Linked DNA regions of Homo sapiens: region 1 is linked to region 2. Evidence: fine-mapped expression QTL. Tissue or cell type: skeletal muscle. Region 2 holds a variant in brackets; the other region holds the start of a gene. All regions are shown on one strand. Distances are from middle to middle.

Region 1 (15,994 bases), 51 kb after region 2:
AATATTGATGACATGCTGTATCGCTATACTCATACACACCTTCTCACACAGTGCCACTTCAGGTAAAACTGAACTCATCTCCATACTCATCTCCATGTTTCCTTTGGGACCTCCTTCATCGACCACAGCCTTTTGTCCCACCACCCATTTAGCTGGCACACAGCTGGTGCATAATAAGTGGTTTTTAAAGGAACAAAAACCTTAGTCATCTTTTACCTGGAATAGCGTCCTAAAATTTTTCCTTTAAGGACAGCTTAAATTACTTTTTATTCCTTTTGTTACCTTTTATGTAAATAAAACATACTATTCTACATAGTTACAAACATTTTAGAGTTGCCATTTAGAAAAACAATTCCTAAAACAACTTCTGGATACATCGTTTAGCACATATTTTACATAATCAAATAAATGTCATTATATTTTAGCATTATAGTATTCAACAGAAGAAAACACAAACCACTGGATAGGTATGTGAAGTTTTTGTGTGTGTGCATTTCTTTAGTTCTGAACAATTTAATCCTTATTATATGTAAAGTATGAGCTCCAGAGCAGTTTCTATGTTATCCAAGCAAGAGCCTTTGGCAATCTGAGAACTTCACTGTGACTGATTCTGTTGTCTGCCTGATATAGTTTGGCTGTGTCCCCACCCAAATCTCATCTTGAATTGTAAATCCCACAATTCTCACATGTCGTAGAGGAACCCAGTAGGAGGAAACTGAATCATGGGGACAGGTCTTTCCCATGCTGTTCTTGTGATAGTGAATAAGTCTCACAAGATCTGATAGTTTTATAAATGGAAGTTCCCCTGCACAAGCTCTCTCTGCCTGCTGCCATCCATGTAAGATCTGACTTGCTCCTCCTTGCCTTCTGCCATGATTGTGAGACCTCCCCAGCCATGTAAGTCCATTAAACCTCTTTCTTTTGTAAATTGCCCAGTCTCGGTACGTCTTCATCAGGAGCATGAAAACAGACTAATACAGTACATTGGTACCAGAAGAGTGGGGTGCTGCTGAAAAGATACTGAAAATGTGGAAATGACTTTGGAACTGGGTAACAGGCAGAGGTTGAAAAAAGTTTGGAGGGCCCAGAAAGCAGGAAAATGTGGGAAAGTATGGAACTCCCTAGAGACTTGTTGAATGGCTTTGACCCAAAATGCTGATAATGATACAATGAATTCCAAGCTGAGTAGTCTCGGGTATGTCTTTATCAGCAGTGTGAAAATGGACTAATGCACTGCTCAATAACCATACACCCTTTTCCGTTTGTAACACAACACTGGGTAATGTGTCCAGCTGGAAATTTCCATTTCCCAGCTTGCCCTGCAAGTGGAAACCAATGCAAAATAAGCATTAGTTTTTGTGTGGTGCTTTCTGAAAAACCTGTTTGCCTTTCACCCTTCCATTTTCTCCTGGCTAAAACTATTGTACATGATGGCTGGCACCCCAGCAACCATGCTGTGACTTTATGGAAGACAAACTCTCAGGACAGTGAAGCAGAAAGGCACAAGGAGCCAACATCCCTTATGACTTTGTGTAGCAGGCACAGCCAACCCTGTCTACCTCCACACTAGTTTTACAGGAGTGAGAAAAACTATTTTGTGTAAGCTACCATTATTTCAGTCTGTTTCCAGATTTCAAATGCTAAGTTCAAACACCCATTTGATTTATCTGGGGCAGCTAAATAAAGAGACCTAAAATTCTTAGTCTTCTGCTTTATCTACTCTTGCCTTATGGCAAATTTTTCCACTATCAGGGTTTCAACTATTGTCTCTCAAGATTCCCAAGTTTGAGGTTTCCCACATCTCACCTAAAAATTTCCAACTACCTTTAAAACATGTCCATTTGGATGTCCCCGTTACCTCAAAATTTGAATTAGTATCATCTCTTATTTTATTAGTCCTCCTTCCCAATTTCCTTGTTGTTTAATAGATTTTCTCAACCAGTCAAGCTCAAGACTGTAATGGAAATTTCCTCAAAATGTGTTTCACCAGCACCAGGGTATCTTGGGAGGCTCATTAAGAATGCGAATCCCCAAGCCCACCACAGATTTACTCAACTAAATCTTCACAAGCCAGCCCAATAAGATCCCTGATAATTTATGAACCTACTACCAATGTTATTACTAATAAAATATCAATATGCTATTACCAATAAGATCCATGGTAACTTATTAATATTAGAATTCTAAATTATTGTTGAGACTTGCTTTTTTCAAAAAAGTCCTTCTCTCTCCTGCCCTATGTTTACTAAATATTCACTAAATAGCAAAGTCCTATAATATGATTGCTATGATTTGGCTGTGTCCCCACCCAAATCTCATCTTAAATTGTTGCTCCCATAATCCCCAAGTGTTGTGGAAGAGACCTGGTGGGAGGTAACTGAATCATGGGGGCAGGTCTTTCCCGTGCTGTTCTCATGACAGTGAATAAGTCTCACGAGATCTGATAGTTTTATAAAGAGCAGTTCCCCTGCACACGCTCTTTTGCCTTTGCTCCTCCTTCACTTTCCGCCATGACTGTGAGGCCTCCCCAGCCATGTGAAACTGAGTCCATTAAACCTCTTTTTCTTTATAAATTACCCAGTCTTGGGTATGTTTTTATTAGCAGCCTAAGAGCGGACTAACACAATGACCTTTGTGACCTCATTTCCTACTATTCTTCCCCTCACCGTTCCTAATTCCCGATGTGAAACTGAGTCCATTAAACCTCTTTGTCTTTATAAATTACCCAGTCTTGGGTATGTTTTTATTAGCAGCCTAAGAGCGGACTAACACAATGACCTTTGTGACCTCATTTCCTACTATTCTTCCCCTCACCGTTCCTAATTCCCGATTCTCTCCTGCCTTGGGGCATTTGCTCTGGCTGGAACACCCTTCCCCCAGATCCCCACCAGGCCAACTCCCTTATCTCCTTCATGCCAACTTTTCAATGAGGGCTAGTCTAACTAACCTACTTAAAATTGCAATCCATCCACCCACCTTAAACATTTTGCTTTCTCTTCATTTTCCCCATTTGCCACACAACAAATTCTATAATTAGCATATTTTGTGTGTGTTTTGTCTCCTGCCTCACTAGAAAGTAAGCACCTCCAGGGCCATGCTTTTCCTCTTCTGTTAACTGATGTATCCCAAGTGCCTGTAACAGTAGTTGAAGTTCAGTAGACATCTGCTGAATGAGTTAATGATTCAGTCAGAAATCTGATTCCTCCCTTCCCATTCTCACTGTTCCACTCTAATACTAATTCTGACTTTTGTCATTTTAAGACTGTTTTGCAAAAGAGTCTATCTACCATACCTTTTCCTCCAAACCAGCCAACACACTTCCAGACTTAACTAAGTTACTACTTTTAGGATGTCCCTCCCTTATAACGATGTGGCCCCCAACTGGCCCTGTTAGATATTATATATTGGAGTTAGGCTTAAATAAGAAATTAGATTCAATGAACTCTAAGAACCTGTTCAAATATTCGGTCCTGTGTCCAAATGACTCACCTTGGCATTTAAAATGCTTTGTAATCTGGCAGTAATCTACCTATCCAAACTTTTAGCCTGCTCCTTCCAAGTTTCCCTCTGCTCCCGGCCAATTTCCTTAAGAACTCTGAAATAAGCCATGTTCACTTTCCCCATTTGTTCTTGTTATGACTGTCTTCAACACTCTCCTAACTACAGAAATAGATGTCAGTATCCTTTAGGATCCTGCTGCTCAGACTGTGATCTGCAGGCCAGCATCCTTCAGCATTACATTCTTGTCAGAAATGTAGTAACTCTGGCCCCACTCCAGACCTCCTGAATCAGACTCTGCGTTTAACAAGATCCTCAGGTGATTCCTATGAACCTTCGAGTTTGAGAAGCACTGTGTGAGGGCTCATCTCAAATCACACCTCAATGAAATGTTCACTCAGCAGGCCTTATGTTCAGTAATAAGTATGTACTAAATTCCTAATCTTCCACAGGTCCTGCGTCCCCCACAGCATGCACAATATTTAATTAACAACATCCCCTCTTAGACTATTTATTCCCTCTTTAAGTCCTTTCTCCCCAGTTTGGTTGTAAACAACTTACAGGCATGACAGTCATACATCTGGCCAATCTGGATGAAGGGAACAGAAACCCATTCAAGTCATTTCAAGGGGGGGAAAAGAGCTTATTTTAATGCTACTTGGGAACTAGGGCTATAAAATTCGGGAGGGCAGGCTCCAAGGTCTCGCCACCCTCTCTCAGGATCTGTGTCTGCCCATCCATTCCATTTTCTTTGCTATCTCTCTACTCACTCATAGTTTCTGCTTTCTTCTATCAGCAGCATTCCCATGACTTATTATGGCCACCCATTCTCTCCCATACCAGCCTATTCACCTCTGCTCCCTTCTGCTTTTACTCTAAATCTCTAACTTTAATGTTTTCAAGAGAGATATGATTAACACAGAGACTCTTTTTGAGCCAAACCACAAGGTTACAAGTGTCTGAGTCACATAAGAATTGGTTGACCCTGGGTCAGGAGCCAACCATAGTCCAATCAGCTGAGGCCAAAAAGGCTGCAGTTCAGAACAAGGCCCTCTAGGCAGCAGGGCCTCTCTCAAAGGAGAATATTCCTTAGGAAAGGTAGGACTATATTTTTTAGGAAAGAAATATTTCCTAGGAAAGAAAAGTGTGGGCAGAGCAGGCAATGAGCCACAACGCCAGCCCCACAGAGTCATTATTTGTCTTCACCACAGTCCCAAGCACATGCTGAAGCTATAATAAACTGGAATCAACTAATCTCAGGGGAAAGGGTCATTCACTCACCAAGCACCACTATGGCCCTGACACTGTGCTGGACGCACAGGGAATACAAAGATTAAACAAGCAGCAGTCCTTGTTTTCCCAGAGCTCTTAATCCAAATGTGTCACTGAACTAGTTACTTGACCTTGGGCAAATTACTAAACCATATGGGCCACAGTTTCCTCAACTATCAGATGGCACTCCACCTTCACCAACCTCCAGGAGTGTTGTAAGTTTCCATAAAGTAATCTTTGTAAAAGTACTTTGGAAAATACACAAGCCAATCAAGAACAATACTGCAGCCCTGTAATCCCCTCACATGCCACAGGTTTTGCAGTGCTCTCAGACTTTTTCTCTTCCCCTTATTTCCCACAATATAGGACCCATCAATTGCTATTATTTAAAAGAACACCACCAACTATTACCATTCTACTTTCACTATCTCTATGACTAATTTCACTCAGAAGTGTAAAAAAAATGAATTTTTACAGTGTGCATTTTAAAAGTATAATGTATTCAACTGTGTATGTAAAACTATAATGCCCTATATAAGTATTTTTTGGGTATTACAAATGACAGCATGTACCGAATTCCTATGTAGTACACAGGCCAGTTTTGAATCTTGCTTCGTCTTCTCCCCACAGCAGTTTCATTTAATATTTCCTAAATACTGCAATCAGAAAATTTCAGGGACCCTATTTTTACAGGGAGCCCCTAAGGAGAAAAAATGGCCTGTCTCCATCCCTGAAATCCAATTCTCCTAACTTATATATTTTTCTAAAACCACTTCACCACCTGTCTCACATTAAAAGATGGAGGTGGGGAGGAAGAGTGGGAATCAGCGATGATGGCAAGATAGATTTCTGAAAAACATGTTATTCCACCCTCTGCAGGATTCAAGTACAGGTTTATGGGAGAGGACAAACAAACCTTGGGATATTTACAGTCTTGGCTTTGACGCGAGCAAAATCAAATAATATTTACAGAGTGCCTGCCACATGGCAGGCAGGATGTTGAGGGCTCCTCGGAGACGATGAAGAGTCTGGGCCCTCGGAAAGCTTACTTGCTTCTACCCCGGAGCATCTGTTGCTCAGTGTTGACAACCATGGCCATTCAAGAGCTGGCCCCAGGTGGAGCAAAGAAAACAGCTTCCACCTGGCTGAAAAGTCAGCTCAGCTGGCCGAAGTGAGGGTTTCGGGCAAAAGGGAAACACAAAAACGAAACCTCAGACGCGAGCCGGTGGGACTCCGCTGCAGGAGGCAGAATTGCAGAAGCTGTAATGCAGGGAACCCACTCGGCACCCGACCCCGATGAAGGCTCCCCGCGCTTCGAGAGCCAAGGGACTACGGATCAAAGGATCCTGCAGCCGGGGAAAAGCAAACTCGCTTCGCTGGGAGCTCAGATAGGGGGTTGCAAAACGGTGGGCGCCGGAGGCAGGGGCGGCGGGCTGGGGATCTGCTGAGTGGAAATCGAACTGGTGGGGAGGGAGGTGGGCAGGGCGAGTGAGCTCAGTGACTGGGACCTAATGGTCACACTGCGGTGCAAAGCACGCCTCGGGGCTCCCGCGGAGAACACCCATTCGAGGGTACTGGAGCCTGGAAAGGGTCTGCGAGTACACTGGGGGCAGCGCGGGGGGAAGGGTCCCCTAGGGGCCGGGCGCGACAGTCGGACTGCCGCCGGGGAAGAGGTAGGATGCGGTCTCTTCCAGGATAAACACACACGCTCACACACACACTCGCTTCCCGACCCCGGGCTAGCCCCGAGCCTCGGCGGCCCCTTACCTTCGGCGCGCGAGCGGATCTCCGACACGGTCCTCCGCATGGTGGGCATCGCGGCGGCGGCTGCAGGTGGGTCCTCAGCCCGGACTCTGCACCTGTCACGGCGTGGTACACGCGGGAGACCCGGCTGCGCCGCGCAGAGCGCTCAGCTGCAGCCTGGGCCGCGCCGCCGCCCACCTAGGGCAGAGCTGCCGCCGGGCGCGGCCCCCGCACGCCGACAGGAGGAGGAGAAAGGCAGCGGTGGCGGCGAAGGTGGCGGCGCCCGCAGAGCTGGGCGAGCTCTTGCTGCAGCCGCGGAGGGGCGGCTCGGCGAGGGGCGGAGCTCGGGCGCCGGCGCCGGGGGAGGGGCCTGCGGGGCTCGCGCTCCCCCTCCCGCGGCCGCTCAGCAAGGAAGGCGGGTGAGGGGCGGGGAGAGCCAGGGGGAGCCTCCTTCGCCCCGCCCCGCCCCGCTTCGGACCGTATCACGACTCAAAGGGGGGATCAACTCTTAGCCTCCTTAGTCCTCCAGCGTTTTCGCTCCGCCCTGTGGAGTTGGTTGACCCGGTTCCTCCTCCAGGCCACTCGGACTCTCTCACATCTTGCTCAGAAAGGAAAGACTGCTCTGGCTGCTGCATTCTCACGAATCCCCTCCCGCTACCCCTGGCTTTTGATCGCAGTGGAGCCGCCCGTCGTCCGGAAAGAGCTGTTGGGTCTGAGCCGGCAGGCGAAGGCGAAAGGGTCTGGGACTACAAGGTTTAGCTCCCAGCCAGAGCAGGAAAGGAACGACTGACTGTTCGCCATCTGGGTGTAATTCTAACCTCTCTGCACGCCCAGCCCGACTCGTGGCCTGAGCCGCACTTGTCCTCCTGCCTCGCCCACTAGCAACAGGCTGCCAGGTCGGGAGGCCCCTGGTGCCCATGGTGCTCTTGTCCATGGGGCTTGGGTGCATCTGGGCCCCGCCTGCAAGTGGGCCCGGTGCATCTCCCTAGTTCAGGCTCTGCAGCCTGACAAGGCACTGAAATAGCAATTAAGCCAACTAAGTATTGGCCCAGGTGGTTCACAAAAGACTTTTTTTTTTTCTTTTAGTTAAATCTGCATAAAGTTGGATGCAGTCGTTTTATCTGCAAAGGGGAGAGGAGTCTTTGTATAAAATCCATAAATATGTTAAATTTTAATTTGCCGATGTCCTTCAGACTATCATAGCCTCATTACCTTTTATTTTGTATACCGAGATCTATGCTAAAAAGTTGTCAAAACAAATACTTCACCTTCAAGTTAAGATGTAAGGTTTTGTGCTGTTTCTGGCGAGCTGCTGAACTGGCAGGAAAGGAATAAACCAGAAACAATAAATCAGAAGCAATTTGCTTCTTCCCTCATTTCATGCTCTTCCTCCAGCAACCAGCGAAAGAGATCCTCACATAGAGGCCTTTTATTTGAGATCTTTTCACATCCTGAAGGGAGAGAGCTGGAGAGGTTTGACCTGAGAGAGAAGTGATTATTTCCAAGCCTCAGGAAAAAATGAAATAAAATCTGCTAATAGCGTCCTATCTCCATTTGTGGTATTTCTTCTGCTTCCTGCAGGTAGCACTTGCTAATCAGAGCCCTGCCCTACATTAATACTCAGGCAGTCAATGCATATTTATGAAGAGCCCACTCTAGTTGGCTCTGATTCAGAGGCTGGAATTAGAACAAAGAAAATGTATTCTCAGTGTTCATGGAACATCTCAGGGTAAAGCAGGACTCAACAATAAATGAATCTATCTGTTTCAGTGATAGTCATGATTTAAAGTATGGTCTTCTAAACGTAAAAAATGAACACAGCTTTATCTGGACTGTCATCACTGGGCATTTTTATTTCTTCCAAGGCCCAGGGTCTCCTTGTATAAAGCAGGCTTGCTCTGGCTTAATGAACATGAGTCTGAAACAAAATTAAAGGGCTAACATAGCAAGGAAAATAGTAAAAATAATAATCAGCTTTAAAAGTTAGCGAACAGAAACTGGAGGAAATGCAGTGCTTTTCTGATTAACATTTTAGGTGTAATTCTATATGAAGCCATAACCAGTTCTTATTAAAAATCAGTGCGCAGCAGCATGACGATAGTTCATTTATGAGCAATCACCTTTGTAATTCCTAATTAGTCCTCAGATGGGGTTGAGGTTCAATTCTGCTTATTTACAAGTAATAACTGAAGGAACTCCAGAAGTTACCTCTGTTTTGTATAGAGCAATCCATTTTTTACATGTGTGTCCCATTAACTCATCAGCAAAGTTGAAAACGTCATTGATACAGGAAACAAGTCACTTATACAGAGAAGAATATTGCATGATATAGTCTATAGATTACCGTGTGTCCTTTCCCTGATATTATCACTTTATCCATAATGGCAAGCGTATCCCAACTACCTTATTTCTTAAAAACCACTCATTCCTGACTGCTAGAAATCACACATTTTTATTGGTTCAGAACTTGATTGAAGTTGAGGATTGCATTAATCTGCATCTGCTTGATTTTAAGGCTCTCAGATCGTCTCACCTTCTATTGTGTGAGAAGTGCAATGTGCCAGCCCCTGGCAGGGAACTCCGGTTCCAGCCACATGACTTTGTCACGGAATCTGTAGTAGAATTCAGATGTCAGCAAGATCATTTAAAATCTTTCAGGTCATATGACTATACTGCTGATAGACTTAGAAGGAAGAGGGTTATTTAAGGACAACTTCCCTAAGATCCAGGTTTTATCCTCCACAAAATGTACATTGAATACGTAACACGTGTGAGGTGCTGAGCCAGAGAACTAGGTTATAGAGGCACTTAATGAAAGCTAAACAGCAGTAGCAACAAGATGGCTAATATGTCATGCCAAATAGACAAGCAGCAACTATGGACTTTGAGAGAAAGCTAAGTTTCTAAGAGCTAGGGTGATCAACATTGTTGAGCTAGATCTTAAAGTAGGGGTTAATTCTATAGAAATAAAAAGGAGACCTCTTTCTAGTGGGAATGCTTGGTAGTCATTGTTTAATGAATGTTTAAGGTCAGTGGAGTGATAGAGGAGCATATATATTTGGCAGGAACAAAGAGACTGACTTGACTACAGTAAAGGTTTTTCACTGGGAATCCATGTATGGAGACTAAAGGTGCCAGATTTGGGAGAGTCTGCAATGTCATCTTAGGATACTTTTGTTTCCTAATGAGCCTTCTAAATGAATGATGCTAGGAATCCCAATATGCCCACTTTTAAGCGTTTGTGGGTTTTTTTTTGACATTTTTCCCTTGAATTTTGCCACAAATTTTCCTCAACTTTACTAAGTAAATTATGTTCTAATATAATGAACATTGAGTGGCAGATGTTCATTACATTCCCAATAACTGTGCCATGTAGGACTAAATGGGAAAACATGTCCTTAGCTTTCTCTTTGAATTAGGATGGCTGTTTTAAGTCATTAGAGAAAATAAAGTATGTGTAAATACGTCTACTCTGTTCTACTGTCACAGCAGGGTGTGGACATCAATGGAACTTCATTGGCCTACAGACTCAGGTTTAAACTTCATTCAAATCAGAGGTGACTGTCAGGTACCCAGAGTTGGGTAAATGATAGTTGAAATTACAAAGGAAAAAAATACAATAAAAGAACTAAGAGGATGTCACTACTGGAACTAAACAGATTGGAAATCAAGTTTTCATGCCAAGAAAATTAAATAGGAGAAAGAATAGTCTTTTCAACAAAGGATGTTGGGACAACTGGATATCCACATGCCAAAGAAAAAAGTTGGACCCCTGCCTTGTATCATACACAAAAACTAACTCAAAATGGATCAAACACCCAAAATGTAAAAGTTAAATTATCTATAAAACTCTTCAGAGAAAAATAGTAAATATTTATTAACTTAGATAATAGTTTCTTACATATGGCATCAAAAGCACAAACAACAAAAGAAAAAATAGATAAATTGCACATCATCAAATTAAAAACTTTTGTCTGGGCACAGTGGCTCATGCCTGTAATCCCAGCACTTTGGAGGCCCAGGTGGGTGGATCACTTGAGGTCAGGAGTTCGAGACCAGCCTGGCCAACATGGTGAAACCCCATCTCTACTAAAAATACAAAAATTAGCTGGGCGTGGTGGTGGGTGCCTGTAATCCCAGCTACCTGGGAGGCTGAGGCAGGAGAATCGCTTGAACCCAGGAAGCAGAGGTTGTAGTGAGCTGAAATCGTGCCACTGCACTCCAGTCTGGGTGACAGAGCGAGACTTTGTCTCAAAAACAAACAAACAAACAAAAAAACAAAACCAAACTTTTGTGCTTCCAAATACATCATTAAGAAATTGTAAAATAACCCACAGAATGGGAGAAAACTTTTGTAAACCATATAGCTGATTAGCGACTTGTACCTAGATTATATTAAAAACGATTATGAGGCTTGGTGACATGGCTCTTGCCTGTAATCCCAGCAATTTGGGAGGCCAAGTAAGGAGGATCATTTAATCCCAAAAGTTCTAAACCAGCCTGAGCAATGTTGAGACCTTGTCTCTACAAATAATTAAAACATTAGCCAGGCGTGATGGTGCACGCCTATGGCCCCAGCTATTTGGAGGCTGAGGTGGGAGAATCACTTGGGCTGGGGTGGTCGAGGCTGCAGGGAGCTAAGCCATGATCACGCCACTGCACTCCAGCTTGGGAGACAAAGCAGGAACCCATCTCAAGAAAAAAAAAGAACTATTATGATTCACTAATAAAAAGACAACCCAATTTAAAAATGAGCAATGAGCAGAGGATCTGGATAGTTATTTCTCCAAAGCAGATATGCAAATGGCCTATAAACTCATAAAAAGATGCTCAATGTCATTAGCTATTAGGGAAGCGCAAATCAAAAACCTGAGATACCACTTCATACTCAGTAGAATGGCTATGATCAAAAAGATAGATAATTTTGTGTTGGAGAGAATGTAGAGAAGTTGTAGCACTCATATACTGCTGGTGGAATGTAAATGGTGAAGTTGCTTTAGAAAATAGTCTGGCAATTCATTAAATGTTAAACATGGAGTTACCATATGGTCTAGCAATTACACTTTTAGGTATACACCTAAGAGAAAAGTAGATGTCCACACAGAAATTTATACACAAATGTTACATTATTCATAATAGCCAAAAAGGGGAAATAATGCAAATGTCCCTCAAGTGATAAATAAAATGTGGTATATTCATACCATGGTATATTCTGCAATAAAAAGTAATAAAATAACACATGCTATAACATGGATGACTTTGAAAACATGCTAAGTGAAAGAACCAGTTACAAAAGCTCACATATTGTATGATTCCAATTATATGACATGTCCAGAATAGGCAAATCTACACAAACAAAAAGATTAATGGTTGCTGAGGGATGGGGGGTGGAATGGGAGCACTGGGAGATGACAGCTGATGCAGAGTTTCTTTTTAGGGTAATAAAAAATATTGTGATGGATGCACAATTCTGTAAATATACTAATGGATTATATTAAGGTGAATTGTATGTTATGTGAATTATATCTTAATAAAGCTGTTAAAAATTTTTTAAAATTAAATCTCCAAAGGCATCAGCCAAAAAATGACCAAGTCCAGAAAATCCAAAAGAGATATCAGAGGATATTCCTATCTTGGGAGGAATTGCACTTATTAATTACTTGATATTACCTGGTTTGTCATTGTCTGGGACCCCCAAAATTATGAATTGGTCCCCTTTGGGAGAAACTTATAGTCAAGTAGGTGAGAAAAGCTTGCTCACTAATTTGTTAACTCACAATGCAGCTGGAGGTGCTTTGGAAACTCATGTCCTGGGGGTTGTTGGAGACATGGCTGAGAACCCTGCTTGTGATTGAGATTGAGGCATGGAAAGTGGATTACCACACAACCATACAATACATACACTAAGCAGTGCTGGCCACTATACTTCCAATTCTTTTGCAGAAGCACTAAAGAAACGGGTAAATTAATCTTAAGTTTTACATAATTAACATCTTTTAGTTTAACATTTAGGTTGAGATGTAAAATTCTATCTAATAGCAAAGCTGCCTGGTTATTCCAAGTGAAGATTAGGCTTTGGTATCTATAATCATGGGTGTTATATATTAATTTAATGCATAGTGTATGGTTAAAGTATCATTATACTGTTAGACTTGTAAGGGACTTTCTTTGCCCCAGCCTTCTTCATTTTGATTGCTTACTTTGTGTCACCACCTTTATATGCACAACCCTCCAATACACGAGCGAGATGTTTAGGCTCTGTTCCCAGAATGTACCTTCATTCTATGCACATTACTTTATCTCTACCTCTACCACCTGTGTACAAGTCACCATCATCGCTTGCCTGCCATACTTTCTAACTGGTCGCCCTGCTTCTATGCCTGTCTTCCATTCGTCTCACGGGAGCCACCATTATTATTATTGCTTTAAAACACAAACTGGTTCATGTTATTTCTTAAGACTCTTTGGTAGCTTCCCATGGCACTCAGGAAGAAAACCAAATCTTTATGATCCTGCCCTTGCTTGTTTCTCAGACTCAGCTTCTCTAGCCCCTCATTCGTCCACAGGGCTCAGATGATTCCAGCCTACTCCAGCTAATATTGCCCCACTATCCCCAATGCTAGACACTGCCACATTGCCTTATTCTATTTTTCTCATAGTACTTATCACTATGTGGAGTTTTCTTATTTGTTTGTTTACCTGTTTATGATAAATAGTTCTCGCTGCGTTTGTCTTGCTAATTGCAATTTGTTCAACCTTAACAACAGTGTCTGTCATACAGTCCAGGATTCATACATAGTTGTTGAATGAATGAATGTAAATGAACTGGATCCCTCAGATTGGAAACTGGAAATGAGTAGAAGGATAGGTAGTGTTCCATCTGAAGAGATAATAAGTTATGTCCTTCATAAGTATGTTTATTGGGGTATATTATTTTGTGAGAATTATTTGCATGAAATAATTTAGAACATATTTGCTTTGGAGTATTTGATATCAGCAAAACCTTGTGCCACAAAAATTAATGTCAAAATTAAGTGATCAAATTTTAAATATAAACCAATTTCAACCAAAAGTTCTAAATTTGCTGTCATTGAATAATTTAGTCACTTATTCTTACTCATAATGATAAAATCAATACTTTTCCCTCACAACTATGATTCATTTCTCATACCTGTAGTACTACTGTCTTTTCAAACACCTTAGCAAGGTCTTAATACAAAGTTATAGTGTCTTTAATGTTATTATCTTCTGCATATACTGGGTATTTCCAACAAAAAAGTACAACAATGTTTTCTTCAATATAATTGAAAATATTCTGCTCCTGTTTAAATGAAACTAGAGTTTCAAAATGCAGTTTTGTATTATATGAAAGAACTCTTGAAAGAAATTTTTAAAGAATTAGTATCTCCAGGATATTTAAAATCAGGTTCAACTCACACACAATCTTTTGGGAAAAACACTTATTGAGTATTTTATTCAAAAAGTAAATGCACATTCAAAGGGAAATGATCTGCTGTATCATAATATCTAGTGTTGGATCTTACATTCAATAGCGTTATTTCAAACAGATGAAAAGAGATTAATTAAATTATTTTTTTTTTACTTTAAAAGTTTCCTGCATATCAGAGCCAAGATGTGAAAAATTCATACTTAATTAGAAGTGCTGCTTCTTTTCCAAAGGTTACCAAACAGCATTTCAATAATGCTGGTTTCTATACAAAGTATTATTATAAAATAGTCCCTGAACTTGTGTATAAGACAATCAACATAATATTGTCATACATTTAGACATTTTTAAAAGCAGCTTTATTGAGGTAGAATTGATATACAATAAACTTCATGTGTCTAACATGTAGAATTTAAGTTCTGATACATATATATAACTGTGAAGCCATCACTACATTCAAGATAAGAAACATATCCATTCCTTCCAAAAGTTTCCTCTTGACCCATGGAATGGTTCTTATCTGTAACTAGATAAGCTTTTTCATCAGCATTCAGCACAACTTATTGAGTGCCCACCATGTTTTAGATAATGAGCAGGATATTGGAAATTGAGTGGTCAGCTGAAACAGACAGGATCCAGACTGTTATAGAATGTATGTTGCATCAGGAAGACAAATACTAATCAAATTATTATGTGAATAAATATAAAATTACCACGGTATATTGTACTCTGGGCAAGCTAGGCTGTATCTGTATATAATGATTGTATCCCCAAATATTTCTGGGCCTCCACACCTATATCAGAAACCCTTTAATGTTGCTTATAGGGCTTTTGCAATGTATCTAAAAATTTACACTAAACATTTTGTTTCTACTGCATGTTATGTCTTTTATTTTGAAAACAGTATGGTATGATGTTTGATGTATGAAAAGGATAACCAGTGGAGAAAAATATTATTATATAATTTATTTTCTTGATGTTGACCAGAAAGTCAATATTGAAAAAGAAAAAGGGAAGGAAAAAAACCTCCCAAGAAAATCTTGCTTTTTTTTCTCACCATGTCACATTAGGTGTTATTTCAAGGAGACAAAGTCACAATAATGAGGTAAAAAATATTGACGGGGGAAAGTCCAGAATTTTTATTAAAAATCAAGCATAGGCTGGGCGCAGTGGCTCATGCCTGTAATCCCAGCACTTTTGGAGGCCGAGGCAGGCAGATCACGAGGTCAGGAGATCGAGACCATCCTGGCCAACATGATGAAACCCCATCTCTACTAAAAATACAAAAATTAGCTGGGCATGGTGGTATGCACCTACAGTCCCAACTACTTGGGAAGTTGAGGCAGGAGAATCGCTTGAACCCAGGAGGCAGAGGTTGCAGTGAGCCAAGATTGTGCCATTGCACTCCAGCCTGGCGACAGAGTGAGACTCTGTGTCAAAAAATAAAAAATAAATACAAAATTTAAAAAGCATAGTAAATGAAATAAAGACGATTATCAAGTACAATTTTGTAATTCCATAATTCCATGACTTTTAATTTAGAAAGAATGCCAGGCTTAAGTAAGATCATTTTCTGATGAAATAAGCTATAGCTTTCAAATATAAAATATTTGCCAATTGTGTTTGAGCCTCTTAGATGATATGGCCCCTGTTCAGCGGTTCATAATTCACTTTAGTGTTTAGTAGATTTATTGGAAAATCACAACTTTTTTTTCTCTGACCCCAAAAATCTCAGAAACAACATCTGCTGTAAAGAGGGATTGTTTATCACTGTAGCTTCTTGCCAACTTTGAACTGTGAGGAAATCCACCAAATGGAGAAAGAGAATGAATACTTAATTCAGGATTACATTTAGGTATTTGTCCCAGAGAGCAGAAGCTGGGGTCAGGGGCAGACACTTTAAGGAAAAGATATAAAGGAACTAAATGGAGGTTTGTGTAAGCTGGAGACACTGAAGGTATGAGCACAGGTGAACTCGTGCCGGGTGTGGGAGCAGAGTCTACACCTCTTGTATAGATCTGCTTGTCTGTGCCA
Region 2 (15,994 bases):
TTGCTTTTAGCATTTTTATTTTGTTCTTCTGAAAAAGAGATTCCTATCACAGAAATAAATAAAACACAACCAAGGTATTTTCCCATTTGTTGCTCTCATGTCAAAAACCAAAGAAAAAATAGGGGTAAATTTTCAACTATATGAAAGAGGAGATGTCAGTCTCTATTCTAGCCACTGATTGAAAATCAACAGAAATTTAATTAATTTTTAATTGGGGGGTACAAGATATCCCCTGCAGAAATACAAGATGACCATGACAAGGTAGAATCAAGGGCATGGACTTCAACTAGCTGGGAAGTACTGGAGTGCAAATAAACTGTTGGTTACACTTCGATTGTCCTAGCAAAATACTGTCCTGTGAGATACACCTCTAATGTCCTGGCAATCCCAGGAAATAAAGTGCCCTAAGAAGGGTGGCTCAGACTCCAAAAAGTCTTTTACCAAGTTACCAAAGCTATTCATTTGTGGATGACTAGATTTTAAACCTTCTTCCAGAACTAAGGGAGAACTAATAATAATTGCTTACCTTTTGAAAGTGAAGGCTGAAAAGAATAAACACCTGAATAACATTTGTTAAATTATGACTTAACCTACTAACTGCCATGTTAGAGGTCCTATAAACAAATTAATCTTTGATGTTAAAGAACTGATTTCATTAGAAGACAATGTTTAATTTGTAAGATTTTTGTTTTAAAGGAATTAGTGGTAAGCAAATGTAATTAGTCTCACTATATGAATTGGAAGTAAAATATGCAGAAGTAAAACATCAGAACTCAAAATTCTTATTTTTACTTGGACAGTAGATGAGTAAAGCAAAAAATTACAACACAAAACAGTTCATGGTTAAATAAAATCTATGATAACAGTACTCAAAATATACTATGAAAAAAACAAAAAGTTCTAGATATTTTTCAAAATAAGTCTTTCTATAATACAGCAGAAATATTAAATGAATGTGACTGAAGATGCCATGCATGTTTATATTACTAAATAGCTTTTATATTAGTAAAATTCTTCACATTTGCTCATATTATACAAAAAATTATATATACTAGAGTACACCGCTATGTATTTCTTCTCCTGGAACAAAATAAAAATCAGTGCATACCTTTTCCCAGTGGACAATTTCCCAAGCACCATTTCTCAAAACTGGAAAGAGAAAAGGTGACATTTTAAACAACATGTTTTACTATGAAAAGGCCATTTCTGATGAAATAATAATTTTAAACGAATAGCTTCAGTCAAAATAACTAGTAGCAATTTTTATAGGTTAAAATTCTAATTATGATAGCAAGAATATGTAAACTTACACAAAAATTAGAAACAACCAATGTATATTTTAGCTCCCACAACATCACTAACAGAGAGCATCTGATTGGTGTTACCAAGGGCTTTCTTTAGCACATAGAGGAACTATGGGGCTCAGCTGGAGGAGAAAGCCACAAAAATGATGTGAAAAAGGAAGCGACAAGCTTAAAAACATTTCAGATGCTACAAGAGTAGCAATGTTTAAAAAGAAAAATCACAAGCACAGAATAATAGATTTCTAATAGTTTAGTAAAAATTTAACACATAAAGCCAACAGAGAAAGAATTTGTACCTTTAGGTTTATATTAATGCAAAAAAACAAACAGCGACAAAAAGCAAAAACAACCCAAATTTTCTTTTTTTTTTTTTTTTTTTTGAGATGGAGTCTCACTCTGTCACCTAGGCTGGAGTGCAATGGCACAATCTTGGCTCACTGCAACCTCCGCCTCCCAGGTTCAAGCCATTCTCCTGCCTCGGTCTTCCAGGTAGCTGGGACTACAGGCATGCACCACCATGTGTGGCTAATTTTTGTATTTTTAGTAGAGACAGCATTTCATCATGTTGGCCAGGCTGGTATCGAACTCCTGACCTCAAGTGATCTGCCTGCCTCAGCCTCCCAAAGTGCTTGGATTACAGGCGTGAGCCACCGCGCCTGGCCCTAAAAATCCAAATTTTCTATATTTGGTTTTCTGAAAAGAAAAAAAAAAGGCAGAAGAAGAGGCTACTATTAAATTATGATGGGGGGTAGGTATTTCTTAGGGTTTCGCTACTGCTTCACATCAGTAGGGTTATCCAGTATAATTTTTTTTTCCTGTGATGTTGTCTGTGCTATAACACTGAGTATGCTAATAAACACCAAAAAATAAAAATAAAAATAAAAATAAAAATAAAACAGGATAAGAGAGTATGTGAGGTAGCCGGCACAGCACTTAGTACTTAGGGAGAGAAATATGTCAAGGCCCATCAACAAATTATCCAGATGTAAATTCCATGAGGGAAAAGCATTTAATATTTGTTTTAATATTATATTCCCTGGAAACAGCACAGTACCTGGCACACAGTAGCTACTCAGTAAGTATTTGCAAAATGCATAATTTATAGGTACAAAAACAGATTCAGTTTCTTTTGATGTTGGGATAGATGAAGCCTGAACCCTCTAAAGCGATCACAATAATAATCCCCAAAATGTTAAACAGCAAATTTAATATTAATTAAAAACAAAAATGTTTTGAACTCAGTGTTTCACAATATAAATTATTTAAATTAAAATATTATCTGTGTTTCTAAATTCCCTGAACACATACATTATGTCTTAGCCATTTTTTTTTTATTACTTGTACTTGCAGCACTTTTGGTATATGGGACATTCAGATGCTTATAAAACAAATTAATGAATACCTCACAGTGCATTTTGGTGAATCAACTTCATTAATTTAAAAAAATAATCATTCCAAGCTAGAGAGAGCTCAAATAAAGTATTTCCAGCACAATATCTTAACCGCAGAAGTTAAAGTACCAATTTTTACAGTGCTTAAACAGTTACGGACCAAGGATCTAAAGCACAGGCACCTTAAATTGATCACTGGATCCTGAAACACAAGACTCTAATGCCTGCAGAGCTCACCCAAACTGATCCCAGGAGTAAATCCCCTGCTCGATGTTGCTCATGGAGCAGTAGGGGTTTGGTGTTTCTGACCCGGAGTCAAAACAGCCTCCGGTAGAAAAGCAAGAGGTGCTGTCTCTGCCAGAGTCCAACAGTATGTTCCTCAAAATAAGTTGTAACAAAGCATAAAGAATAAATGAGGGCTGGGAGCAGTAGCTCACGCTTGTAATCCCAGCACTTTGGGAGGCCGAGGTGAGCGGATCACCTGAGGTCAGGCGTTCGAGACCAGCCTGGCCAACATGGTGAAACCCTGTCTCTACTAAAAAAACACCAAAAAAATTAGCCAGGCATGGTGGCGCACACCCGTAGTCCCAGCTACTTGGGAGGCTGAGACAGGAGAATGGCTTGACCCCGCGAGGGGGAGGTTGCAGTGAGCCAAGATGACGCCACTGCACTCTAGCCTGGGTGACAGAGCAAGACTCCGTCTCAAAAATAAAATAAAATAAAATTAAAATAAATAAATAAATAAATAAATGAGAGCTCCCCTTTAATTATGTAACCCAGTGGCTACAATATAATAAGAGAGATGGTAACAAAGAGAGATGGTAAAGTCCTGTTCAAATCAACTACACCCAAGATCAACTGACAGAGTGAGTGGGCTATAAGTTTGCATTAATTTAGGAAAAACTGGTCAATAGTGTCTAGAGCTCTGTATTGCCACTTATTTCCTTCGGATCCTATCTCATATTAGTAATTATCCCAATAGTAATACTTAGTTTTTTTTAAAAAAAAACTATAAGTGTCCAATATTTCTAAAATCAAGATATTTGACATGAAGATTAAGACTTCAGATTAGACAGGATGAATAAGCTCCAGAGAACACACTATCTTCCTGGAATTTGATTTGGGTCTCAAGTCTTCCAATTCACGGACAAGCTATCTTTCTGTACTTATTTACATCTTAATTTTTCTTGGATATGTTTTGTAGTTTTCTGTGAATGGGTCTTTCACTAGATTTAATTCTTGATATTTTATGTTTTTTCTTAACCTCACGAGGGTTATTTTTTATTCTATATTCCAGTCATTGGCAATATTTAGAAATGCATTAAATTTTTGTACAATGAATGACCTTGTCATCCTGTAATTTTGTTACTTCACTTATTAGTTTGGGTATGGTTTTTTTAACTTTTATTTTGTTGTTTCTGTAGCAATGCTTTTGATGCAACTTAATTTCTCTTTGTGAACAATGCTGCATTATGATTTTTTGGCAGTTTTATTATGCTCATATGCCTCCCTGTTTATCCCATTTTAAAACTCTTACAGAAAAATGCCTTTGAAACTCTGGAATAATTTTTACTACTAAAAACTTCCTGTTGATTTTATGCCTTTAGCATCTCAAAATCTGCCAATATTTTAAAAATCTTCTCCACCATCACCAATATCAGCACCCCTAGTTCAAGGAACCACCCCCTCCCAACTGGATGTCTGTATTAGCCTCAGGCTAGTTTCCTGCATTCATTCTTAATCTCTTTCAAATTCAGTTTCTACAGTGTAGCTATAAGGATTATCTATGATGATTTTACATAAATGTTATAATTACATATTATTATGTATCAGTCCATACACACAAACTTGGGTCACCCCTTGCTCAGAACTCTTCAGTTGGCTTCCCTAGGCTCAAAAAATAAATCAAAACATCTACAAGGCCTTTTATGAAGCAGCTCTTGCCTCTTTCCTGTCATCACTTCTTGTCACTCCCAACACACCCTCCTTATGCCCTCTGTAGTGAGCGCACCATGCTCTCTGCTGTCTCAAATCCTTTGCACATGTTTCCATGCCTAGAATTCTCTTTCCCTCCATCCTCACCTAGTTAACTTGTACACACACCTTGTAGATCTCAGCTTTAACAGCACTTTCTCAGGGGACATTGTGTTGACACCCAGTCCTTCCTCCTCACCCCCAAATCTAAATGAGCTCCGTGCACTTTTCCTTTAGAACACTTATCACAGCATCACAGTTTTACTGTATACTTAATTAAACAGGATTATTTAAGGGCTGTCTCTTCCCCCAGATTATAAGATCCATGACAAGAGAAACCTTCCCTATTATACTCACTGTTACCATTCCAGTGTTATCACACAGCACACACTGGTGCTCAGTAAGTACTAACTGGGTGGAATGCTGGATCCACTAATATTCTTATCTGTCATAGGATCATATAAAACCATTGCAACAGTTATAGATTTACTGAAGATACAACTCCACTACCTAGTAGGGCTCATGTTAAAAATAACATAAACATGACATTTAATAAATAGTTGTATAGGAAAATACTTTGGCAGTTTCTCAAAAAGTTAAGCACAGTTACCACAGACCCAGAAATTCTACTACTAGGTGTATACCCAAGCAAACGGAAAACATATGTTCACACAAAACTTGTATATGAATGTTCACTGAAACATTATTCATAATAGCCAAAGGGTAGAAACAACCCACATGTCTATCAACTGATGAATGGATAACAAAATGTGGTATAGCCATTAAATGGAATGTTATTCTGCCATAAAAATAATTTAAGTGTGGATACAATGACATGAATGAATCTTGGAGATATGCTAAGTGAAAGAACCCAGACACAAAGGGCCACGTATTGTATGATCCCATGTACATAAGATGCCAAGAACAGACAAATCCATGGAGACAAAAGGTAGGTTAGTGATTGCAAGGGATTCAAGGAAGAAAGAAAGACTGACTGTTTACATGTATAGGGTTTCTTTTTGGATTAATGAAAATGTTCTAGAATTAAGGTTGTGGTGATCGGTGCATAACCTTGTGAATGCACTAAACACCCCTGAACTGTATCCTTCAACATGGTGAGTTATATGGTATGTGAACTATAACTGAATTAAAAAATAGCTACAGAAAAAGATGCCAATGAACTATTTTAACATTTGCTTAAAATAGACATCTCAGTTTTATAAGTGACTAAACCAATTTTCAGTGCAAGCAGTTAGAAATGGTTATGTAACCCTCAGAGGCACTAACACAAACTGTTCTCTGGTATCAGCTCAGGGCCACTCCTTCCAGCTCTGTAATTTAATCTAGCCCTCCTCAACATGCTGTGACTTTACAGATGTTTGTTAGTTCACATGTAAAAAATAGCCCTGATCCACTTTGTTGGGTGCCATTTAACACATGGGAAGTGTCACAACAGGCTTCTCAGATCCAACAGATTATGCCAGAGAGTCTTCACTCAATAACGGATAGTGGAAGCCAGTGGCACTTACATGGAAAACCGCCTCCAAATCTGCTGCACTTCTGCCGTCCTCCTTCAAATCTGCTTGACGCCTCCATCTTCTGTACGTGCTCATTTTCCCTCAACCTTGCTCTGATCAGTTTTCTCTCCACATTCAAACTTATTTACCTCCTTTCTCCAACCGACCTTTTGCGAATCTTTGTCTCCAGCCAAACAGTGCATTCTCCTCTCCACCCAAATGTTCTCTCTCAATTCATTATTGGAGAAATACTTAGAAAAATGTGGCATACTGCCCAAATGTACACATCTAAGAAACTTTTAAATACATATTCAATGTTTTCTACCAAATGACAAAATCAATACATGTTTCCAGCAAGACAGGTATGTATACAAGGTAAAAGCTGACATTCCTCTTCTCAAGGCCAGTTTCTCACAGTAAGGAGTACTAACTGATGAATCCTCGCACACCTTTCTCTAGACAAACATGGACATTCTTGTTTTTTCTTTCCCTTTTAAAATTTCTCTGCCACTTGGTTTTCCACTCAACATGCCATAAATACTTTAATGAATAGCAGAGATATTTAACTCATTTTTGGAAAATACTCCATGGCACAGATGTGTCAATTACAACGGGTTGGATAATTAGGTGGACACACAAGACTTCACAGGATGTATTCACAGAAGACTTTACTCAAGGCAAAGGATATGGTACAGCAGGAAAATGAAAGACCAGAAAAGCATCAGAGGCCTGAGAGACTGACAGGCATGGCTCCCCAGGATCCCTTCTCTTTCACCCTCAACACGGGTGTTGAAGCTCCATGGTATGTATGTGAAATCTGAATTTCAGGAAAGCCCAGGCAAAAGTTTCCAGTGGCGTCTTTTCTACCCTCTAGTTGACTAGCCAAGGCAAACTGTGTAGCCAGTAAAACTAGTTAAGCCATCAATCTCTATATATGCTTAAACTGAGTAGAGAAGCTAGTCTTGGGTGGCTACAAGGGAGTTTCAAACCTTAAACAGCACATTATAAATCACCAGCTAGTCCGTCTCATCCTTGTCTTAGGCAGTGTTCAGCATCACACTTCCAGGTGTCCTAGAGATAGGCACAGAGCTGTCCTTGCCCTGTGTGAGACAACTCAATTTTCCACAACAGCTGCATCATAAAGCATTCAACTATTCTCCCCCTGGTGCAAATTCTGACTTCTATTTTTTTCTACTACCACAGCAATGAAATATATTCACATGATTGTACCCTGTAAGAGAGAATGCCCCAGAGAACATTGCTGACTCCGGGGCATTTGAGTTTGTAATTTTATCAGATACAACCAGATACCTAAGAATCTACAGCACTCCATACTTTTACCAGCAATGTATAAATTTCCACTGACTATAAACTGAGACAAGCACAAACTTATCCATTCCTTGAATTTTGTCAGTCTGATGAGTATTTGATATTTATTCTGAAGGCTGTAGTGGTCTGGATTAATGAAAGTATAAATTACCTTTACATCCCTACACTGGGTTGGAATCCTAACTAAATAGAGTAACGCTTCTTTGAAAATATTACAGAACCTTGCTGTTCAACACTTGCTGCATGGGCCTGCTGCATCTGCAGTGCTGGTAGGCTCCCTAGAAATGAGGACGTACTTCTACCCCATCCCCCATTTACTGTGTTCTTGAAATACAAAACCAGAATACAGAAATGAAGAAAGGAAATACACAAACTTGAGGCTAGTGTCTTCTTGGAATATAGATGAGTATACTCTGATAAAGTTAAAAATCAGCTCACAACATAAAAAAAAGTTTCCATACAAATCAAGACTTGAACACTGGCCAAGGAAACTAGTCAATCCTATAATTCATTGTTATCTTTTAGAACTGGTTCTTAAACACCCAGTCCTTAGAACAATGAAAATAAACACCACCACATGTATTATGCTGGTGACTGAATTAGCAATCTAGGTATTTTTAAATCATCAACCTCCTCTGACCCGGCACAAACCTAAGTTTAGAGAAAGCAAGAAACAATGCCCAGCCTGTGATGAGCATTTAGGGTTGTTGAGCCAAAAGTAACAGAGATGCTATTCTGATTCTACAGGTTTTTTTTTTTTTTTAATGTATTCATTTCAGTAGAGAATTAGGTAAACCTCACATTACACAGCCAAGGCCAATGTAATTTTGTACATTTAGAATGTGTTCAAGAAACCAGTCACAATGTAACTGGATTAGATTTCAACAAGGAGGTGACTGTGTTCCTCCCTACCTTCATTTAGGAAGATGACATTCCTCCAATATATGGAAAGCGTTAAGAGCCTAGAGGAGATGATTAAAGAAGCCTGGTGAAGGGGAGTAGGAATAAGTTACGACAGGATTGTCAGAATGGCTAGTGGTATGGTGCTTTGACAGCTCATTGTTTTAAATGCAAAACTCCTCTACCAGTTCCAACCAAACACACCTGTTATAGTTTTCTAACAGCTTAATTAGTCTGACAGTCCTGCCATGGGAGAGCTCAGACTAAACAATTACCTCAAATGTAACTTGTTTTTATTCAGCAGGATACAAGGTAACAGCTTTGTTGTAATAGGTTTCTTTTTTGAATGAAAACATTCTGTTAGAGAACATTCGGGATTCCTCAAAGGCCCTGGAGGAAGTGGCCAGTTTCTCAGGACCCAATCAAATAATGCACAGGTGCAGGTGCTGACTTACACTCTAACATCAGCTTCTCTGAGAGAAGCACGCCTCCCACCC[ACC/A]CCACCCCAATCAGAATGGTCTACCACTGGGGCCACTGCTGAAAGTGTCACCGGGGTGCCCTCCCCGGGCAATAATATCATTTTTTTTTTTTTGGAGACAGAGTCTCGCTTTGTCACCCAGGTTGGAGTGCAGTGGCACGATCTCGGCTCACTGTAACCTCCACCTCTCAGGTTCAAGCAATTCTCCTGCCTCAGCCTCCTGAGTAGCTGGGATTACAGGTGCGTGCCACCACACCTGGCTAATTTTTGTATTTTTAGTAGAGATGGGGTTTCGCCATGTTGGTCAGGCTGGTCTTGAACTCCTGACCTTGTGATCTGCCTGCCTTGGCCTCCCAAAGTGCTGGGATTACAGGCGTCAGCCACCGCACCCAGCCTATCATTTCTTAAGTGGGTAACAAGAGGCAAGTCATCCAAAAAGACAATGACACTACTGTTGTCATAGAGGAATAGTAAAACCACAGAAAATGTAGTGTGCTCCAATTCCTCTGAGTCAGCATTTAAGAGGAATTTTAGGTCATCAAGGACTGTAGTATAGCTGAGACTATGGCTTTGACTGGGGCAAAGAAGGAAAGCCAATATGCCAACATTAAAATATTATTTTATTCACTATATAGACTCTTACTTCCAAAGACAACTTTAAGGCAAAAGCCTCAGTGTGGCACAAACTGACATGGCACAGGAAGAGTCTCTTGTATAAGCTTGCCTATAAAGGTTACATTAAACCACCAGGGGCTTGGCTGAACCATTAGTGTCCACTGACACAAAAGACAATGGAAACTTCCTGGATTCCTCTTTCAATCATGTAATACACATAATAATACATATATTGATGTCAAATTGGTTGATACTACTTCTATCAACTCATTTATACAACCTTTAAATGAGTTGTCCTAAAAGCACGACCCCCTCACCAGCAGTGTCACTGAGAGGTTAAAACTGAAACTCTGGGGCCCCACTCCAGGCCTACAGAAACTCTAGGTGTGAGTCCCAGCAATCTGTGTTTTAACAAATGCTCCAGGGGATTCTGATGCCAAATTTGAGAACCAATGGCTTATTAAACATCAATATAAGTGGCACGATGTGATCGGAGCACAAAGACCAGCAATACCCTATTCTCGAAATGCTTTCCCTTTCTCCTGCTCACAGTCATGAGTCCCTCACTTTTTCCTCTGCTTAATTGAGAAATTCCTTGAAAGAAAAATCTCCCTCCACTGCCTCACCCATCAGTCATTCCACAACTCCTTGCGATCTGGCTTCAGTTTTCAGAGCTCCACGACTACTCTCTAGTTAAGAAAAATGAACAACGGCTACTTCTTTTAAATGCTGGATTTAGTGGGTGTCTCAGTCCTGGTCTTTTGATTTGGCAGCACTTGGTATTTGACTGGGTTTCTCTCCATTGCCAGGTCCAGTTGAATCTATCCACTGTGTGCTTTCCTTTGTCTTCTACTTGACACAACCTGTCCCCCTCCTTAATAAGAAAATCAATCTCTCTGTGCCTCTCCTTGCCACCTCTCCATACAGCTGTCAAATTCTTTCAAAAGCACAAGTGGAAGCCTATCCATACTTTTCAGAATTCCATCCAAGTTCCTCACCCTGGTTTTCAAAAGACTCCGAAAAATGACCCTAACTTGCCTCCCTGTCCCTGTCCCTCATTGTTTCATGACATGGATTCTATGCCCTGGCCAAAACAGACTATTTGCTATTTCCAGAGTACATCTCATGTCTTCCCACTTCCACAGTAACGCTCATATTAGTCCTTTCACCCTGCATCACTCACAGTTACTACCCTGATATCTGCTTACCAAAGTTCCACTCTTACTTCATGAACCCCTCAAATGGCATTTTGGAATCCCTACATCTCTCATTTGGCCCTTAATTTTTTTTTTTTTTTTACCTTGAATTATATCAGTCTGCATCTTATCTTCCCGACAAGATTATAATTTCCTGTAGGACAAGTATGATTTCTCTTTGCATTTTCTACACAGGGTCCTACACAAGAAAGATGTTCAATAAAGACTTTCTGAAGTAAAATAACAAATGTTCTAACTTTGAATCACACCCATTTTTCCCAGAAAATATGTTAATATAACTTATTTGGGTTTGGCAAAAACAGGAGAGAGAAAAATTCCCATGAAAGCAGACTACCTGGTTTAAATTTAAAAATAAAAGACAATGTGAGTGGAGTATGCACATACACGAATAAAGCACAGAGCAAAGTCATAAAGCCAGCCATAAAATCAGTCCTCTCACTTTAACCATCTTCCCAAATTTCCTCAATGGGTTTTGCTCCTTTGTGTGCAAAAAAAAAAAAAAAAGTGAAAGACAACCTGGAGCTGTCTTTCCCCACAAATATCTCCTCTCCATCCAGAGCTACTGCTGAAGACATCTAACCAGTTCAATGGTTAGATTTTAGTATTTGCATAATACTCAGATCTTTGTGACAATCTGAAAATATTATAAAGCTTATAGATGTCTGAAATTACTTAGGCCATAAATATGCTTAATTTTAAGTCCCTAGGATCACTGAAACACTACTTTCTAAAAACCATTTATAGGTAAGCCAACATACACGTGGCAGAATATATGTTCAGGTCTACCGAACAGAGCAGATGTGGGGGTACCTCCAGAGAGACAAAAAGGGAGCAACACTCTCTTTTTCAGCAGGCAAGAAAGGTGTTGCTATTTTAAGTCCCTTAGCATAATACATCTCTTTGAACAGCACTGAAATGAATTGAACCAGATGAACTCCGCCTTGTTGTTAGTAGGTCATTTCATGCTTAACAACCCGCAACACATTCAATCCACATCAACTCAACACCTTTTTCACAAAGGACTTTAAAGCTGAAATGGTTTCCAGTGGGAGATAAGCAACTATGCGCCCTGCAGGGAAGTAGTCTTGTTAGTGGCTATCAGCTGTCACTCACTCAACTCCATTCAGAAAAGGCTGATTGATGTAGCTCTGGGGAAGGAAGATAAGGTGAATATGAGTCGATTTATTATTTTTAGCTATGTGTCTAGTTTAAAAGAATTTCATGTGACCCTTTCTAAATAATCAGAAAACTGCTTTATTACTTATTCTAATGCTTAGTATCATAATAAAATAGGGTACGATATTAAACAATTTAGCCTTCATTTAACTATAGCATCAAACCAGTTGATCAATGGGCTGCTAAGGATCGCAGCTCTATCTCCCACACATTCTCATATGCAGAATGTATACAGACCATCGTCCAGGGAATACACCTGGGGCTTTAAAAAGCAAATTTACTCATTAGGAAGCATTTACAAATTTTCCCAAATACCTTAGTTTGCACCTGAACTCCATCCATCCTTTCCCAGGCCCCCATGTTGTGATTTTAGATGAAGTTGTCATTCCACTTGAAATATTGACAAGCTAGCCATCATGGCATTTCATAAAAAACGACAGCATATTTTTACCAGTTAAAATAAAAACTAGCTCAATCACCACAATAAATTCATATGGGGACTGGCTTCAATGTGCATATTAGAATAACAATTATAAATTTGTAATTTATAAATTTCTGCAAAGATATATTTGGCAGAACAACTCATCTCAGAGAAAACAATGAGAGATGGCCTCTTGTGTGTGTAGACACATGGAGGAGGCTGTGCCAAAATGTGAGTTCAAATACTGAGGGAAGAGATCAGAGGAAATGAAAGTAAGGTTAGATACAAGGAAAATGAGCGCATTCTGAACAGGGCAGTGCTTTGAGTAATGAAAGGGATCAGTAGACAAACTATTGTATTGACAGAAGGTGAAGCAAGGGTTAAATGATAATATAATGACTTTGACAGAGAAGATAAAGTGGCAAGAACTTCTGCCATATTTGGATTTTATCAGTGACTGTGAAAGTCTGGGACACAGTGTTATGAAGATACTGCTTTTCATCTTATTCGCACTCCAGATAATGAATTTTCAGGAAGGCTTCTTTTCATTTCCAGTCTTTCTTCTTCCTTTATTATGTATACTGAAGTATTTATCTGGAGAGTGGTTCATTTACTCGTTCATTTAACATGCACACAGAGAGCACCTACTAAGACAGGATCCTGGTCTGGGAGCTATTGGGAACACAAAGCTGAGTAAGAGTTGGACCTTCCCTCTGTAGTGTTCCTATCTAGTATGCACAAACCATCACACAACAAAAACACTGGAGCAAAGAGAAGCAGCCACAGTGCTCTGGGTGGAGTGGACCATAAAACTCATCAAGACTCACTCACATCCCTGGACTTCTGAGCGTCAACCTACTCTGTCTTCTCTCTGCAGCTAGGTTGTTGGAAAACAGTACACAATTTTATATTCATCAGGTCACTGAATCATCAACCAAACCAGCTTATATATCTCTGGGGCAAGGCTTGTTTCCAGAAGTGGTGTTGACAACTTTTAGGTTCTGAGTTAGGTCTCAGCTCCATAATTCGATCCCTGATTGAGTTAACTTATCAGTGAAAACAGGGCATCCAATAAGCACCAGTTTTCAGTTAAACGGTTGAAAATGTTGGAAATAAAAAGACAAGTTTATATTTCTGAAGTTGCTAAGGAATGAGAGTGTTACCCTCTGATGCCTCACATAAGGAGAGAAAATATTCATTCCTCTGTGAATATAAAAGGGTTAACATTTGATTGAGAAAAAAATGTCTCTTACATATTATGTGGACTTGACAAACACTGACAAAATGAAAATGAGTTGGATGCTTCAGATGTCCATCAAAAATTAATTACCTGTCAAAAATACTCCTCCCTCCCCACTCCTATACACCCACTTCTGCCTCAATTCAGAAAAGCAAATTGAATTTCATTCTGGCCTAATAACAGATGGCTTTCATGTTAAGCAATCTGAATTATCTGACAGCAAACAGTATCCTACTCGAACATTTTTGTTATCTCCTATCAACTGCCAAACCAAGAAGACCAATACTCAAAGGCAGCAAAGGGGAAAACAAAAATATACTATTCTCTTAGGAAACAAATTCAACTACCAACATAAAAGCCATAATTTCTTGGATATGGGACTTATAAGATCTGAAAGAAAGTACAGTCCCCCCTCAATATCCATGAGGGATTAGTTCCAGGACCTCCCATGGATACAAATCCATGGATGCTCAAGTCCCTTAAATAAACTGGTGCAGTATTTGCATATAACCTATGCATGTCCTTTCATATACTTTAAATCATCTCTACATTACTTATAAGACCTAATACAATTTAAATAGTAAATATGTAAATAGCTATGTAAATAGTTGTTATACTATATTTTTAAACTTGTATTTTTTTTTATTGTTGCATTGTTTTTCTTTTTTTTAAGATAGAGTCTCTCTCTGTCACCCAGGCTGGAGTGCAGTGGCGCGGTCTTGGCTCACTGCAACCTCCGCCTCCTGGGTTTGAGCGATTCTCCTACCTCAGCCTCCCGAATAGCTGGGATTACAGGCGCCTGCCACCACGCCCAACTAATTTTTGTATTTTTAGTAGAGATGGGGTTTTGCCATGTTGGTCAGGCTGGGCTTGAACTCCTGACCTCTGGCGATCCATCCGCCTCAGCCTCCCAAAGGGCTGGAATTACAGGCATGAGCCGCCCCGCCTGGCCTCATTTTTTTTTTTTCCTTCTATTTTTGATCTTCAATTGGTTGAATCTTAGGATGAGAAACCTACAGATATGAAGTGTATTCTGTTGACTGAAATGGCTTTTATAGCTAAGCCCTAATATTTCATTTTTGAATTGAGTTTTATATATATTTATTATAGAAGCTTTTCCTCTCACTTGCCTATTCTCATATTTAGCCATAGGGCCAATCCTGTTATCTATGAAGGGGACTCATGAACCAAGATGGATAGTCAAGAAATAAAATTTTATCTGAATGGTAGGCAAGGAATTTTTTTTTTGGAGGTAAGTACGTACCCAGAAGGGTGGAGCACCTGTGTGGTAGCCCAAAATCATCATAGCTATGGTGACCACACCTCTACTGTACTATGTCAACTTCTTGAGCCAAGGCTTGAAAATCAATAATTGCCAGTCACTGAACATAGGAGCCCTCTGCTACAAGATACATTATGGGTTGGAAAAGCATTTATGTACTTCTGTTTCAAAAGCTGTTACTGAATATTCTGAGCAATACGGCAACAAATGCAAAAACTGCATATTGCCAAAAATACCAGGCTTGAAACGTCTGGATTTTTTCCCTTTCAATTCCTGTGTTTGTCCCTTCACAACTAAACTCCTGGAGTAGCTCTGTCCCAGGCTTCTAACAGTCCCTTACTCCTGTTCATTCTGCCTTCCATCTTTAACCCACATGTTCGGCCTGTCTCGTTTTGGCTCATAAACCTTCAACAGCGACTCAATATCCACAAGAAATATTGGAATCCCCTTGGCTTAGCCTTCAAGACCCTATACAATTCAACCTCAGCCTACCTTTTAAATCATGATTTTGTTTCCCTCTGATGTGAATCTCCTTTCTGCGCCTGGCAGTCTAATAATGGTTCAGCAAAGGAGTCCTACAGTCTTATTTTCCTGAAAAACCCCTCTTCCTCCTTTCCCACTCAACCCACACATAAAAATATCTTCTCCATTCCTCTCTGTTCATCCAATGTCCTCCTAAAATTCAAGGTCTAGCTCAAGATACACCACAGTTTTCTCTCCTTACCAATTTTTATAGCACTTGACATAGAAACTATGATTTGCCACAAAAATCCGAAGATAATTGAGATCATGTAGTCCAAATCCTTCATCTTCCACACAGATCATCTCTTTGTACTTTTACATGTTTTTACATGTACCTATTTCAACAAATATGTTATAAGCTCTTTATAAGTTGTAAGTTGAAATTCCCGTCTTATACTTTCTTATATGTTCCATAATAAAATACTCTCAGTAAATATTTTGCAAATTTATTAATTAGTAAATATATCATCCTTAAATGTATTAAAAATTGGCATATAATGCCTATTGTGGGAGGTGGTGAAAAAGAAGCAGGGAATTTTGACAGGACTCCATAGAAATATCAGCAGTATAAAAATAGTCTTCCTAAATACCAGATAATGTTGGCAGACATCACTTATCCTCACCACAT

The links.
Region 1: it holds the start of ATP8A1, and the variant in region 2 is fine-mapped to the expression of ATP8A1 in skeletal muscle (GTEx, PIP 0.91).

Annotation. Positions count from the first base shown.
Region 1 is chr4:42,650,288-42,666,281 of GRCh38, forward strand. ATP8A1 (ATPase phospholipid transporting 8A1) reads right to left here and starts at 6,818. Exons shown (of 37, transcript NM_006095.2): 1 at 6,538-6,818. The coding sequence starts at 6,586. ATP8A1-DT (ATP8A1 divergent transcript) reads left to right here and starts at 7,236. Exons shown (of 1, transcript NR_186688.1): 1 at 7,236-8,060. RefSeq lists enhancers at 6,005-6,054, 7,045-7,254 and a silencer at 6,545-7,014.
Region 2 is chr4:42,599,370-42,615,363 of GRCh38, forward strand. ATP8A1 (ATPase phospholipid transporting 8A1) reads right to left here. Exons shown (of 37, transcript NM_006095.2): 6 at 1,109-1,149. Among named protein-coding and RNA genes, the nearest start is that of ATP8A1, 50 kb to the right of the region's middle. RefSeq lists an enhancer at 11,467-12,011. The variant ACC/A (reference allele first, on the strand shown) is at 8,913.